Linked DNA regions of Homo sapiens. The protein of the gene in region 4 purifies or fractionates together with the protein of the main gene of each other region. This does not show direct contact. Each region holds a gene or a part of one and is shown on either strand. Other genes may lie near its edges.

What was found. Proteins that work in one complex are often made in the same cells at the same time.
Region 1: the proteins of SDF2 (region 4) and NUBPL purify together in Homo sapiens (affinity purification with mass spectrometry; one large-scale study listed by BioGRID and IntAct). This does not show direct contact.
Region 2: the proteins of SDF2 (region 4) and CNTNAP1 purify together in Homo sapiens (affinity purification with mass spectrometry; one large-scale study listed by BioGRID and IntAct). This does not show direct contact.
Region 3: the proteins of SDF2 (region 4) and ZER1 purify together in Homo sapiens (affinity purification with mass spectrometry; one large-scale study listed by BioGRID and IntAct). This does not show direct contact.

The regions. Positions count from the first base shown.
Region 1 is NC_000014.9:31,844,404-31,847,903, reverse strand, and holds part of NUBPL (iron-sulfur cluster transfer protein NUBPL isoform 1 precursor), read right to left. Parts: intron 1,434-3,500; coding exon 1,313-1,433; intron 1-1,312.
Region 2 is NC_000017.11:42,685,531-42,689,030, forward strand, and holds part of CNTNAP1 (contactin-associated protein 1 precursor), read left to right. Parts: intron 1-426; coding exon 427-611; intron 612-1,372; coding exon 1,373-1,516; intron 1,517-2,189; coding exon 2,190-2,451; intron 2,452-2,931; coding exon 2,932-3,081; intron 3,082-3,345; coding exon 3,346-3,500. UniProt on the Homo sapiens protein: Required, with CNTNAP2, for radial and longitudinal organization of myelinated axons. Plays a role in the formation of functional distinct domains critical for saltatory conduction of nerve impulses in myelinated nerve fibers.
Region 3 is NC_000009.12:128,729,286-128,731,606, forward strand, and holds the end of ZER1 (protein zer-1 homolog), read right to left. Parts: intron 2,110-2,321; coding exon 2,052-2,109; 3' UTR 501-2,051; downstream 1-500. UniProt on the Homo sapiens protein: Serves as substrate adapter subunit in the E3 ubiquitin ligase complex ZYG11B-CUL2-Elongin BC. Acts to target substrates bearing N-terminal degrons for proteasomal degradation with the first four residues of substrates being the key recognition elements.
Region 4 is NC_000017.11:28,647,846-28,651,906, forward strand, and holds the end of SDF2 (stromal cell-derived factor 2 precursor), read right to left. Parts: intron 3,698-4,061; coding exon of another isoform or gene 3,641-3,697; intron 1,432-3,640; coding exon 1,144-1,431; 3' UTR 501-1,143; downstream 1-500.

The DNA.
Region 1 (3,500 bases), on a different chromosome or scaffold from region 4:
AAAATTGAACTTTCTGGGTTAAATGAAAAACAGTTGCAGAATATAATTAGTGGCTATAATTATAGCAATGTATCAAAATATATCATTAGTATTCACCTGGTATTGTAGTGGCTGCTATAGTGCAAATGCATAACAATAATATATTTAACATCAACTTTTAGAAACTTAATTATAACAGAGAATGTTTTGAAATTCCTTAATCTCTAGGGATCTTAATTTTTAACTACCTAAGTCTAATAATTCACTTTATGCCTTCCCTATTCAGCATCTAACACCTGCCTTTGGCAAGAACAGAAACCCATTCACAATTAGAATATCAAAACATGTTTTCTAAAAAGTCTGTTAAGTTGCCTGTGGATTTTTGGAACATCATGTTTTATCCAAAACCTGTGTTTTGCTTATTTAACACATGATTTTAGTTTTCCTCACAGCACTAATGAACTCTTCAGTTCAGTGCCATGAACAGTGCGTACAATGTAAATTTCAGGTGCCATATTTTAAAGACATATCAAACACATTAAATATTACAGAAAACAGTAAATACTGCCATTCTAAAGCAGAAAGACTAACAAAGAATTAATCAGGAAGGCATTTTTACATATGCACTAAGAACGAACACTTTTAGAGGTTTTTACAACATACGGAACAGACATTTTAATGTACCTGTTTCTACTGAGAGATGTACACCCAACTTAGCAAACACACTGATGAGTATCATTTAAAATATGGCTTCAAATTACAGTACTTGGACTACAAAACTCTATTCTCAAATTTAAGTTATAGACAGTTTTTATTTAAAATAGAAATTATCATAGTTGACAGAACAAACCTATTCAAAAAAGCCAAAGAAAGGTTAACACATAGAACTGTGCTATATTAATTTAAAACACAAAGCCAAAAGCAACTCATCATTTTCAGAGACACTGTTTTTTGTTTTTTGTTTTTTTTTTGATGGAGTCTCACTCTGTCACCCAGGCTGGAGTGCAGTGGTGCTATCTCAGCTCACTGCAAGCTCCGCCTCCAGGGTTCATGCCATTCTCCTGCCTCAGCCTCCTGAGTAGCTGGGACTGCAGGCGCCCGCCACCACGCCTGGATAATTTTTTGTATTTTTAGTAGAGACAGGGTCTCACCATGTTAGCCAGGATGGTCTCGATCTCCTGACCTCGTGATCTGTCCACCTCGACCTCCCAAAGTGCTGGGATTACAGGTGTGAGACTCCGTGCCCGGCCTCTGAGACACTCTTAATCATCAAGCCTCATCCCCACTTTCTCTTCTGCCACTTCTTCTACAAAAGAACATCCCACAGTCTTACCTAGAACTTCAAGACCAAGGGTCTGTGCTAGTTTCCTTGCACCATCAGCACCAAAAATATGAGTTTTGTGTTTACATTTTGGACACTGGAAAACACTCATGTTTTGGACAAGGCCAAGGACCTAGAATAAAAACACACTGAAATCAAAATAAAATTAAACCAAATATTAATACATTACTTCAACAAATTTTTACAGAGTGCCTACTGAGTTCTAGTGGCACTCATCAATGTTATCACAATGATGAATAAACTATGGCCTCTGCTCTGAAGGAACTCATGAGCTAGTAAGAGAGCAAGACATATAGAATTACCTTTGATATCATAATAAATGCTAAAAAGAGATGAATGAACAGGAACCAAAAATTCTGCCTAGAAAGAAGAGAAATCTTTGAGTTTCCCATAGACAGTTGTTTCTTCAGGTTGTGGGGTGATGAGGAGGTGAGGCCCACAGCAGGAATTCTAGACAGAAGGAAGACAACAAGCCAAGGTAGCAAAATAAAACTGTGTGGCCTACTTGGGCTGCAACCCAGTGGGTGGTCAAGGCAGAAGATGGTTTGGGAAGGAAGGCTAGGGCCACGTGGGAAGATGCTGAATACCATCCATGTATTTGAGGCATTCCTCTTCAGACAACAGGAAACCACTAAAGGTTTTCAAAGCTGAAAAGATGGTATCAAAGAGGTAGTTATACAATCAGATTTTTGTTTTAGAAATTTATCTTTGATGACAATTTGGAGAAAAATAAGAAGGGAGGAACAGAGGAAAATAAATACCTAAGAGGTAACTTTGGACGAAGTCTCACAGTAAATCTAAAATAACGAAGTGTTTGTTGTATGCCAGGTGCTGGGTTAAGTACTTTAAATGTACTATCTTATTTACTCTTCACAAGAACTTTATGAGATGGTTATTTTGTTTTTTGTTTTGTTTGTTTCTGAGATGGAGTTTCGCTCTTGTTGCCCAGGCCGGAGTGCAATGGCGCGATCTCGGCTCACCGCAACCTCCACCTCCTGGGTTCAAGTGATTCTCCTGCCTCAGCCTCCCGAGTACCTGGGATTACAGGCGTGCACCACCACACCCGGCTAATTTTGTATTTTTAGTAGCGACAGGGTTTCTTCCTGTTGGTCAGGCTGGTCTCGAACTCTCAACCTCAGGTGATCCGCCCACCTCGGCCTCCCAAAGTGCTGGGATTAGAGGAGTGAGCTACCGTGCCCAGCCGAGATGGTTATTTTATCATTCTCATTCTATGGTTGAGAAAACTGACAGTGCTAACAAAAGAGTAAAACTCAGCTCTTATCAGAATGTTATTGTCTGAAACAAAATTAAGTTTCATAGAAAAGGTCATTCTCTTTCTAAGTTTCCCTAGATTCTGCTACAAAATAGATACAGCTAAACCTTGAACATGAGTTTGAACTGTGGGGGGTCCACTTATGTGTGAATTTTTTTTGAACCAACCACAGATAAAAAATATAGTATTTGCCCGCCACAAAACCCAAGTACCGGAATGGCTGATGTCCTAGAAGCAACTGTGGGACTTCAGTATGCATGAATTTTGGAATATGCAGTGGCGGGGGGAGGGCGATTCTGGAACCAATCCCCCACATATATTGAGGGAAGATGATACTTAAGAAATGTTATTATTCAACAATACTGTTGAATAAATAGATAGGCTCTGCAAATATAATCCTTACTCATGTTCCTTTTAATCCCACTCTCTCATTGATGAGGAGCAGTAGCTCTCTTCTAGAATAAAAATGCAGAACACTATTTTCAGAGGCTTAGAGATTACAATAAAAATGCAGAACACTATTTTCAGAGGCTTAGAGATTACAATGTCTGTATCAGTTCTACCATAAGGTTATGATTGTAGATTATTAGAACATTTGCATTTTAAATGAAGAACAGTACTGATAGTCCACAATGAAACATATAGATAAGAAGGCGAAAAAATTGTTATTCTTTCTGAAAAGAGAAATAGAAAAAACTAAAGTTGCCCCCAATAATTATATATGAAGACAAATAGTAAAAAGACATAAATCTATAGCAAAGCATTTTCCAAGCATCTAATATATGCCCTTTTGCTGATGCACACTATCACAAAAAATAAATCACGCTGTGTTTTGGGAATTCAGTACTATCTCCAGAAAGCTAGAGAGAAACATAGCTTAATGTCACACAGCTTGTTTATTAACTA
Region 2 (3,500 bases), about 14 Mb from region 4:
TAAGGCCTGGACCAAACTGCCCCTTTCTTGTAGCATTTGGTGCTAGCAAAACACTGGAGTTGAGTGAGAACTGGATTCCAGTCTCAGCTCTACCACTACACAGAGATGTGACCTCGGATGGGGCACTTCCGAGCCTCAGTTCCCTCCTTGTAAACACACACACACAGACGCACACACATTGTATCTCATTAGCTTTTCATAACACCCGCACATGAAATAGAAGCAGCTCATGTGTTCCCAGTTTTACAGACAGGAAGCCAGGCTAAATGGCTTACCCTGTCACACACTCGCCAATGGCTGTTGATCTATTCGCCCACTCTCCCTGATTGCCCTGGGCTTTGTTACACGCTGCTGCTCTGCCTAGGAGCTTGGACTCCATGGAGTTCTCCTGGCTTGAGGTTTCACTCTGTCCTGCCCCACCCTCAGGCAGCAGCCCTATCCAGCCAAGACCAGGTCACACCACCGTGAGCGCAGGCGGAGTCCTCAATGACCAGCACTGGCACTATGTGCGGGTGGACCGATTTGGCCGCGATGTAAATTTCACCCTGGACGGCTATGTGCAGCGCTTTATTCTCAATGGAGACTTCGAGAGGCTGAACCTGGACACTGAGGTGAGAGACTAGGGAGGTGCTATTTCGTGGTAGGGTAGATGCTGGATGAGTGAGTGCAGGTCGGTCTCTCCCTTTCTCTTTTCCTCTGTCTCTCAGAGGAAAGACCTGGCATTCAGGCTGTGGGTGGTGGCTCATGCCTGTAATCCCAGCACTTTGGGAGGCTGAGGTGGGAGGATTGCTTGAGGCCAGGTGTTCAAGACTCACCTGGGCAACATAGTGACATCCTACCTCTATTTAAAAAAATTTTTTTTTTCAAAGACCTCGCATTCCAATTCCTGAATATCCTAGCAGCCCTTGGCAAACTTGCCACTCACCAGAAAAAGGCCTGTTTTTTTTTTTTTTTTTTTTTTTTGTGGGTGTTGTTGCTGTTAGCATGCAGACTCCCAGGCACTATTTCAGAACTAATGAGATGGGGTTTGGAAATTCAGATTTTGGGGACTAGGCAAGGTAGGAAAATTGTTCCCTTGGATCCTCCCACAACTTTGTGGAGTTGTTAAAGACCCTGACCCCATCTGCAGATAAGAATCCCAGGCAGGCTAATTGACTTGCCCAAGGGCGTGCAGCCGATTTGTGTTGGAGTCAGAGCTTGAACTCAAGCCTTGAAAGGCCTAGCGAGCTTTAGTACCGACACTGGGGAAATGTGTGTTTTAAGTCTTTTACAAAACCCCATCTGGCATTTGGGAAAGCATACGGCGGGGACGCGCGAGAAAGGCAGGCGCCCTCCTGTGCCCAAGAGGCCTCATTCCCCACGCCTCCCGCAGATGTTCATCGGAGGTCTGGTGGGCGCCGCGCGGAAGAACCTGGCCTATCGGCATAACTTCCGCGGCTGCATAGAAAACGTAATCTTCAACCGCGTCAACATCGCAGACCTGGCCGTGCGGCGCCATTCCCGGATCACCTTCGAGGCCAGTGGGCAGGGGGGTCTGGGAGGACAGGATATCAAAGCGTCGTGGAAAGCAAAGAGGTGGAGCGGGAAGAGATATTGAACATCAGATAAAAGCGGAGAATCCCTCTGTCCCCAGCCAGATGCTCAAGTTGGGAGGGGAGCGGGTCTCACCTGAGGTGCATGAGCCACGCAGGCCCCTAGTTAAGAAGCAGTGGTCGGGTCCAATCACCTTCTTAGTTCATAGATGAAGAAAGTAAGGCGCAGACACAGGGAGTGGCTTGTCCAGGGGTCGTGCAGCTGCACGGTGGCTGAGTAGGGACTTGAACCGATGGCTTCTCTGATATGCCCCCCTCAACCCTCTCCGACTCTGGAGCTCTGTTGGGAAGCTGGCAGGAGCCAGGTCTGTGGTCCAAAATTGCCTCTCGATACTGGAAGGAGAGAAGCGGTCGAATCGCAGACGGTGGAGATCAGCGAGAGCAAGCGAGCAGAGTTCCGAGGGCCGACTGGGTTGGGGCCCCCTCCACAGATGGACGAGCTTGGAGGGGAAGAGGTCACGTCATGGTTGGAGATCTCACCCCCGCCAACACCGAAGGAGGGCGGTGACCAGGGTCTTAGACCGGTGTGAAAACTGAATTCCCAGCTGAGGCAGAGGCGGCTCACGGGTGTTGATGCGTCTTCACTTTTGCCCCTAGGGTAAGGTGGCTTTTCGTTGCCTGGACCCGGTACCGCACCCTATCAACTTCGGAGGCCCTCACAACTTCGTTCAAGTGCCCGGTTTCCCACGCCGTGGCCGCCTGGCAGTCTCATTTCGCTTCCGCACCTGGGACCTCACCGGGCTTCTCCTTTTCTCCCGTCTGGGGGACGGGCTGGGCCACGTGGAGCTGACGCTCAGCGAAGGGCAGGTCAACGTGTCCATCGCGCAGAGCGGCCGAAAGAAGCTTCAGTTCGCTGCTGGTGAGGGCGTTTCGGGGGAGGCACAAGAAGAGAAGAGAAGTGTAGAGGATCCCAGGAAAGTTGTAGGCCTGGACTGAGGCCTTTACATTCTGGAGAGGGGAGAGGAGTGAAGGGGGCAGGGCAGGAGGCCCCAGGGTACTGGGAAAAGGTGGGAGTGGCTAGAGGCAGTGAGGAGGCGAATCTGAGGGACTAAGTATTCTTGGAGAAGGGGGAAGCCTGGGAGTCCTGGTATTCTCCAGTTCCAGAAGGCCCCTGGAGATTTGGTTACTCGTTTATAACTGTGCAGACTCTGTGGCAGTTGCTGGGTCATGGATAATGAAGAGACATTCAGAGAGGTCTCCACTGGGTGTGAGAAGTGTAATCACGGGGGCACACAGGCTGCTACTGGGACACAGTGGGGCTGCTGCTTCCCCACTCAGAACATTCTTCTACCCTAGTTGCTGCTTCCCTCCACCCACACCATCATCCATTCTTGTCCAGGGTACCGACTGAATGACGGCTTTTGGCACGAGGTGAATTTTGTGGCACAGGAAAACCATGCAGTTATCAGCATTGATGATGTGGAAGGGGCAGAGGTCAGGGTCTCATACCCGTTGCTGATCCGGACAGGGACCTCATATTTCTTTGGGGGTAAGTGGGGGCCAACCTGACCAGACCTCTGTTTCTGGGTGGGAAGGCTCCATCTAAGTCCACCCAGATGGGGCCACATGGAGAATTTTGGAGGGATCAAGCCCTCTTCCCCTCTGGGGCCTCAGGGAGTGGAAGGTCATTGCCATCTACACTTTGGTTGTAGTCCCCTTTCTTCCTTTATGTCTGGCTCCCCCTCAGCATGTCCCTGGGGGAGGGTCTTTGGGGTCTCCCCTGGGGAGGATCTCACAGGGGTGGTTGCTCCAGGTTGTCCCAAGCCAGCCAGTCGATGGGACTGCCACTCCAACCAGACGGCATTCCATGGCTGCATGGAGCTGCTCAAGGTGGATGGTCAACTGGTCAACCTGACTCTGGTGGAGGGCCGGCGGCTTGGATTCTATGCTGAGGTCCTCTTTGATACA
Region 3 (2,321 bases), on a different chromosome or scaffold from region 4:
CCTGGGTTTGGCTCCACTCTGTCCTCTTGTAAGAAGCCTCCCAGACACATGGGGACATCGTGCTGGCTCCTCCCCCTCTCCCCAAAGCACTGTGGCCCAGCGGACTCCAAGCTTCCCTGATCCGCCTGCCCACTCCCATCCACTGGCAGGAGGCACCTCCTCCGCTGCCTTCTCCCTGATGGTGGCACAGAGTTGTAATCTTCTATTTGCCATCTGTCTCCCCCATCAGGCTGAGCCATCTTAGGCAGGCACCCTGTTGGTCTGGTTGCCAGCTGTGTCCTCAGTGGGCACAGGGATGTGAAGAGAACACATAGGAAACAGGTACTCCAGCTCAGTCCCCTGCCACCTGTCCCCAGCCTGCAGCCCTTTAACCCACCAAACGCACCCCTCCCTACCACAGAACTACCTACACTGCAGCCCCCCTGCCAGGGGTGGCTCAAGCCCTGCTCCAGAGCCTGGAAGCCAGGCTAGCAATCCCCTCCACAAAAAAAGACGCTCTGTTTTCCATTTTGCACAAAAATGTATTTCTGTGACTTCCCAAAGTACAGACATTTCCCCAGGCCCCAGGGGGTAAAGCAATGAGGTGTGAAGTCTGCCAGGGTCTGGCCGGGGCCGCTGAGCGTGGGAAGGAAGGGAGCGCCGCATGCAGCCCATCTGCCAAGCTGGGGGAACACAGGGCTGCGCCCACTTCCCAGGGCCGGGAGGGAGAGGCTCCAGGAGAAAAAGGCCAGGTGTCTCTCCCAAAGCTGCTCACCCCTGCCGTCCTGCCTGGAGGCAGAAATGCTAGGAACACCTGAAAACAGGCCCGCGGGAGGAAAAGGGAAGAAAAAGCCATCACCCAAAGGCTGCCTCCAGGGTTAGCGCTGCTCCCCAGGCCCCTGCGCTCCACAAGTGTCCGATGAGAAGCAATGCAGTGTCCATCGATGGAGGAGCAAGAGAGCCGGCGCCTCTCAGGCTTCCAAGGTAAAGCCTAGGGCAGGGCGGGACCGCCAGGGAGGCCCAAGCGGCCACTGCAGGGCAGTCCGAGTGCTGGTCTGGAGGCGGCTGTGTGGCCGTTGTGGGTCAAAGGCTGTCATGGGACCTCTGCCTCTGAGAGGCGTGGGGTCCTCTGGGCAGCGGGGCAGGCTGGGAGGAGGAGGCAGGCTCAGTTCTGCTGGTGGGAGCGCCTGGGCAGTTGAGGGCTATGGAGCGAGGAAGCAAGCCCCTGGCCCCAGAAGATGCTAGCTTCCAGGGCTGAGGGCAGGTTCTGGATGTGTTTGGCAGAAGGGGCAGTGGAATCTGCCCCTGAGTTCTGACCATCCCTGGGCTGGGGCTTTCCACAGCCTGGGACCTGGTGGGAGACTAGGAGGCAGCCTCCATAGCAGCGTGGCCTCAGGCAGGCCTGGCTGGACAGCAGCAGGGCCACTGGGTGCCCTGCTCCTAGAGGGTCTTCAGGGGCAGGGCTGCCTGGACCTCAGCCTAGGAATGGCTCACTTTCCTGCCCCAGATGGCCCACAGCCGGGAGCACCAAGGCTTTTGGGAGACCCAGTGGGGTAAGTTCTAATCCCCAAACCCCATCAGCTGTGCCCGGGAGCCGAGATGGCGTTCTCAGGCAGGGGCAGTGGGTCAGGATGCTCGATACGCTGTCCAAGGCCTGCTCCTCTCATGAAAGGAAGCCAGGCCGGGATCTGAGTTTCCTGGACAAGGACTGGACACTCACAGCGTTATAGGCATTTAGTCTGGTTGGGGTAGGAGTGTGTGTGTCAGCGATGAAGGCTGAGTGGGTTTGAGAATGGCCAAGGAAGCTGCAAGGACTCAGGAGTGTTGCTTTTGTTTTTGCACAGAAATCATACACACAAAACTTCACACTTCCTAACCAAAAAAAAAATATATATATATAATATATATATATCTCACTAACATTAAGGAAAAGCGTCGGTTGTGCAAAAGTCCCCCATGTCTCTTCACTCCGTGGGAGGCTCCCTCGGAAGGGGCCCGCCCGCTGGGCTGCTTGAGCATGCTTCCTCCCCGCCTGTGGTCCAGAGCGGTGGCGGCCATGGGGACGGAGGCCTCTATCTAGACGTGTCCATGTTCTCCTCTTTAAAGTTACTGCAGTGCTCAATCACCTTGCTGGAGACAATGGGGGAGACAGGATTGGAGGGTGGGCTTGGGTGGGGGTGAGCCCAGCCCCTCCGAGATCATTAGGCAGCTGGGTAAACACGTGTTCATAGTGATGGTGATGCTGACCGAATGATGTGGACAGAGGGGCTGGCAGAGTGGCTGGCATGTGCAGGGGACTCAGGGAATGGCACCTGTGGCCGTGAATGCCATCACCAGCCATC
Region 4 (4,061 bases):
AAAAGAATTCAGGCAGTTACTCAACTGCTGCACTGATAAAAATGCAGTATTACCCTATATGAATTCTGTGAAGATTAAATGAGGTAAGATCTATAGGCCGGGTGCGGTGGCTCACGCCTGTAATCTCAGCACTTTGGGAGGCTGAGGCGGGCGGATCATGAGGTCAGGAGATCGAGACCATCCTAGTTAATACAGTGAAACCCTGTCTCTACTAAAAATACAAAAAAATTACCCTGGCGTGGTGGCGGGTGCCTGTAGCACCGGCTACTTGGGAGGCTGAGGCAGGAGGATGGTTGTGAACCCAGGAGGTGGAACTTGCAGTGAGCCGAGATCGCGCCACTGCACTCCAGCCTGGGCGACAGACCGAGACTCTGTCTAAAAAACAATAAATAAAAAAAAAGATCTATAATATGGTACCTAGTATTTAGCAGTGAATAAATACTGGTTCGTTCTTTCTACCCCTACACCTTTTTCTCATCTGCAGTAACAGATACAAAGCAAACATTTCACTGGCTATTTATTATGCTGTATTCTCTGAGAGTTTTTAGCTATAATTAGTCAAAGATCTATTAAAGATGAGATGCCTGGAGAGAAGTCAAAGTAGAGGGAGAAAAGGTTTGTATGCAAGAAAAGCTCTTAAAAGGGCCCACATTGGAGCTTCATAGCGTCTCCAAAGAGTCTTAGGACTCAAAGGATTAAGCAGCTAATGAAATAGCACACCTAATAAATAACAACACAGTGACTCATAATAAAATTATTGTTTTTATCATTTTGGAGAGAGAAAATAGGGGGAAAATCACATACATTAACAGTCCATGATGCCAAGCTCCTGAAGAGTAAAAGTTTCCCAGCTAAGAGGGATGTTTCCCTCAGTTTGTTTTATCAGTACTAATAAAAAGCATCTGCCCCTTTACCAGCAAGTCCTCTACTCAGAAAGAACTGACCCACGCAAGTCTGGGAGAGTGACTAGTTCAAATGTGCAGGGCTGAAGCTTCCAAACACAGCCACTATTTTCTGTTGTATATCTTCATCTCAATGGTGACATGGCCACTGCCCAAGGAACTTGTGGCAGGGATCCCAAGGTGAGGCAGCAACAGATGTCTGTGAACATTGTGCGTTAACAGTGGCTCAGAGCCTCTAGATTCACAGCTCTGCATGGTGGGCTTCTGCCTTCAACAACTCACTGGGCTTCATGAAGATGCCTTCCATGGCTTTCCAGTAGTTGTTCTGACTTGGCTGGGCCATGCCATGCACCTCTTTTTGCCCACTGATAGGTCGACCATATTGTTCTCCTGTGACAGACAGCAGTACCTCAGTGGAAGAGTGTTTGAACCGCACCTCACCATCTCTCACCCAGTAGGGTCCATTACAGAGCACTGTCCAGTCATCCAGATAATCACCTTCACCTTCCTCACCAAAAGCACTCACTTCCTAGAAAATACAGAAGGTAGTAACATCAGCATGGCTGACAAGGGCTTGAAAAGGGGTGGGAGGCAATGGGAAGAAAAAGAAGGCCACCTTGAAGTAAAAAATCAGAGGGGCCAGGCTTATGCCTGTAATCCTACCACTTTGGGAAGCTGAGCAGGGCAGATCACTTGAGCCCAAGAGTTTGAGACCAGCCTGGGCAACATGGTGAAACGCTATCCCTAAAAAAAATACAAAAGAAATTAGCTGAGGTCAGGAGTTCAAGACCAGCCTGACCGACATGGAGAAACCCTGTCTCTACTAAAAATACAAAATTAGCTGGGTGTGGTGGCACATGCCTGTAATCCCAGCTACTCGGGAGGCTGAGGCAGGAGAATCGCTTGAACCCGGGAGGCGGAGGTTGCGGTGAGCCGAGATCACACCATTGCACTCCAGCCTGGGCAACAAGAGCAAAACTCTGTCTCAAAAAAAAAAAAAGAAAAAAAAAAAAGAAATTAGCTGGGCATGGTGGCACATGCCTATGGTACCCAGCTACTACAGCTATCACCTAAGTCCAGGGGATCAAGGCTGCAATGAGCTGTGATCATACCACTGCACTCCAGCTTGGATTACAGAGCAAGACCCCATCTCAAAAAAAAAAAAAAAATTCAGCTGCTTTCCAGTGTTGTTATTTTATTTATTTATTTATTTATTTATTTTGAGACAGAGTATCGCTCTTGTTGCCCAGGCTGGAGTGCAATGGCGCAATCTCGGCTCACCACAACCTCCGCCTCCCAGGTTCAAGTGATTTTCCTGCCTCAGCCTCCCTAGTAGCTGGGATTACAGGCATGTGCCACCATGCCCGGCTAATTTTGTATTTTTAGTAGAGACAGGGTTTCTCCATGTTGGTCAGGCTGGTTTCGAATTCCCAACCTCAGGTGATCCTCCCGCCTCAGCCTCCCAAAGTGCTGGGATTACAGGCATGAGCCACCGTGCCCGGCCACTCCAGTGTTGTTTAAACCATGAACCATGGAAAAAGACGAAAGACATAAAGGACATAGGAGGAAAAAAATTCATTGCTATAAGATTATGGTCCATGGTTCTTATCTGAGTCATGGCATCAAAAAGAAAGGAAAAAAAAAAGATTATGGTCCAAACACTTATTTTGCAATTAATACTATAATTGCCTTATATTTTCTATTACAGTGTTAAAACAGAATTTCTTTTTTTTTTCTTTTTAAGAGTTGGGATTGTGGCCAGGTACGGTAGCTCATGCCTGTAATCCCAGTAATTTGGGAGGGCGAGGCGGGCAGATCGCCTGAGGTCAGGAGTTCAAGACCAGCCTGGCCAACATGGTAAAACCCCATCTCTACTAAAAATACAAAAATTAGCCAGGTGTGGTGGCAGGCGCCTGTAATCCCAGCTATTCGGGAGGCTGAAGCAGGAGAATCGCTTGAACCTGGGAGGCGGAGGTTGCCGTGAGCCGAAGGTTGCAGTGAGCCGAGATTGCACCACTGGACTCCAGCCTGGATGACAAGAGTGAGACTTTGTCTCAAAAAAAAAAAAAAAAAAAAAAAAAAAACAGTTAGGGTATCTTGCTCTGTTGCCCAGGCTGGAGTGCAGTGCCTCAAGTGGTCTTATGGCCTCACCTCCTGAGTAGCTAAGACAACAGGCATATACCACCACACCCAGGTAATTAAAAGTTTTTTGGTAGGCAACTGTGTTGCCTTGGCTGGCCTCTAACTCCTGGACTTAAACGATTCTCCCCACTTGGTCTTTTAGGGTGCTGGGATTACAGGTGTGAGCCACCGTGCTGGCTTTAAAATACTTTACTTTTTTGAGACAGCATCTCGCTCTGTCGCCCAGGCTGGAGTGCAATGGCACAATCTCGGCTCTCTGCAACCTCCACCTCTTGGGTTCTCATGCCTCAGCCTCCAGAATAGCTGGGATTACAGGCATGTGCTACCACACCCAGCTAATTTTGGTATTTTTTAATAGAGATGGGGGTTTCACCATGTTGACCAGGCTGGTCTCAAACTCCCAGCCTCAAGTGATCCACCTACCTCAGCGTAGTAAAGTGCTGGGAGTACAGGCATGAGCCACCACATTCTGCCCTTAAAATACTTTATATCTCTTGTTATTTGACTTTAAATATTACTGCTTCATTCTCTTAACTAGATTTTAAATGACCTGATGACAAGTTCAAAAGGGAATGGACTCTGGGAGTCAGGCTGACCTTGAATCTCAACTTGATCCCTTCTTCTGTAAATCCTTTGAGCCTTTGTTTTCTCCTCTATAAAATGATCACAATATCACCTTACAGAGCAACTGTGAGAATTAAATGAGATAGCAAATATTAACTGAGCAAAACATAGCAAGTTTTCTACATTCTTTTCTTTCTTTCTAATAAGGCAGTGAGAGAGAAAGCAAGTTCTCTATATTCTACTCCTCATCTAAATCCCATCTTCCTTAAGGCCAAATATTCAGTTTCTATACGATGGCAATTAAAAAATTACTGATTATTTCAGAAGTGTGTGTGTGTGTGTGTGTGTACACTCTACTTGATAAAATTGTTCCCAGGAGGGTACCAGTATGTAATTCTGATACTGCTATATTTGTATACTGGAACTGAACTGAAGTTCAATACATGGATGGCA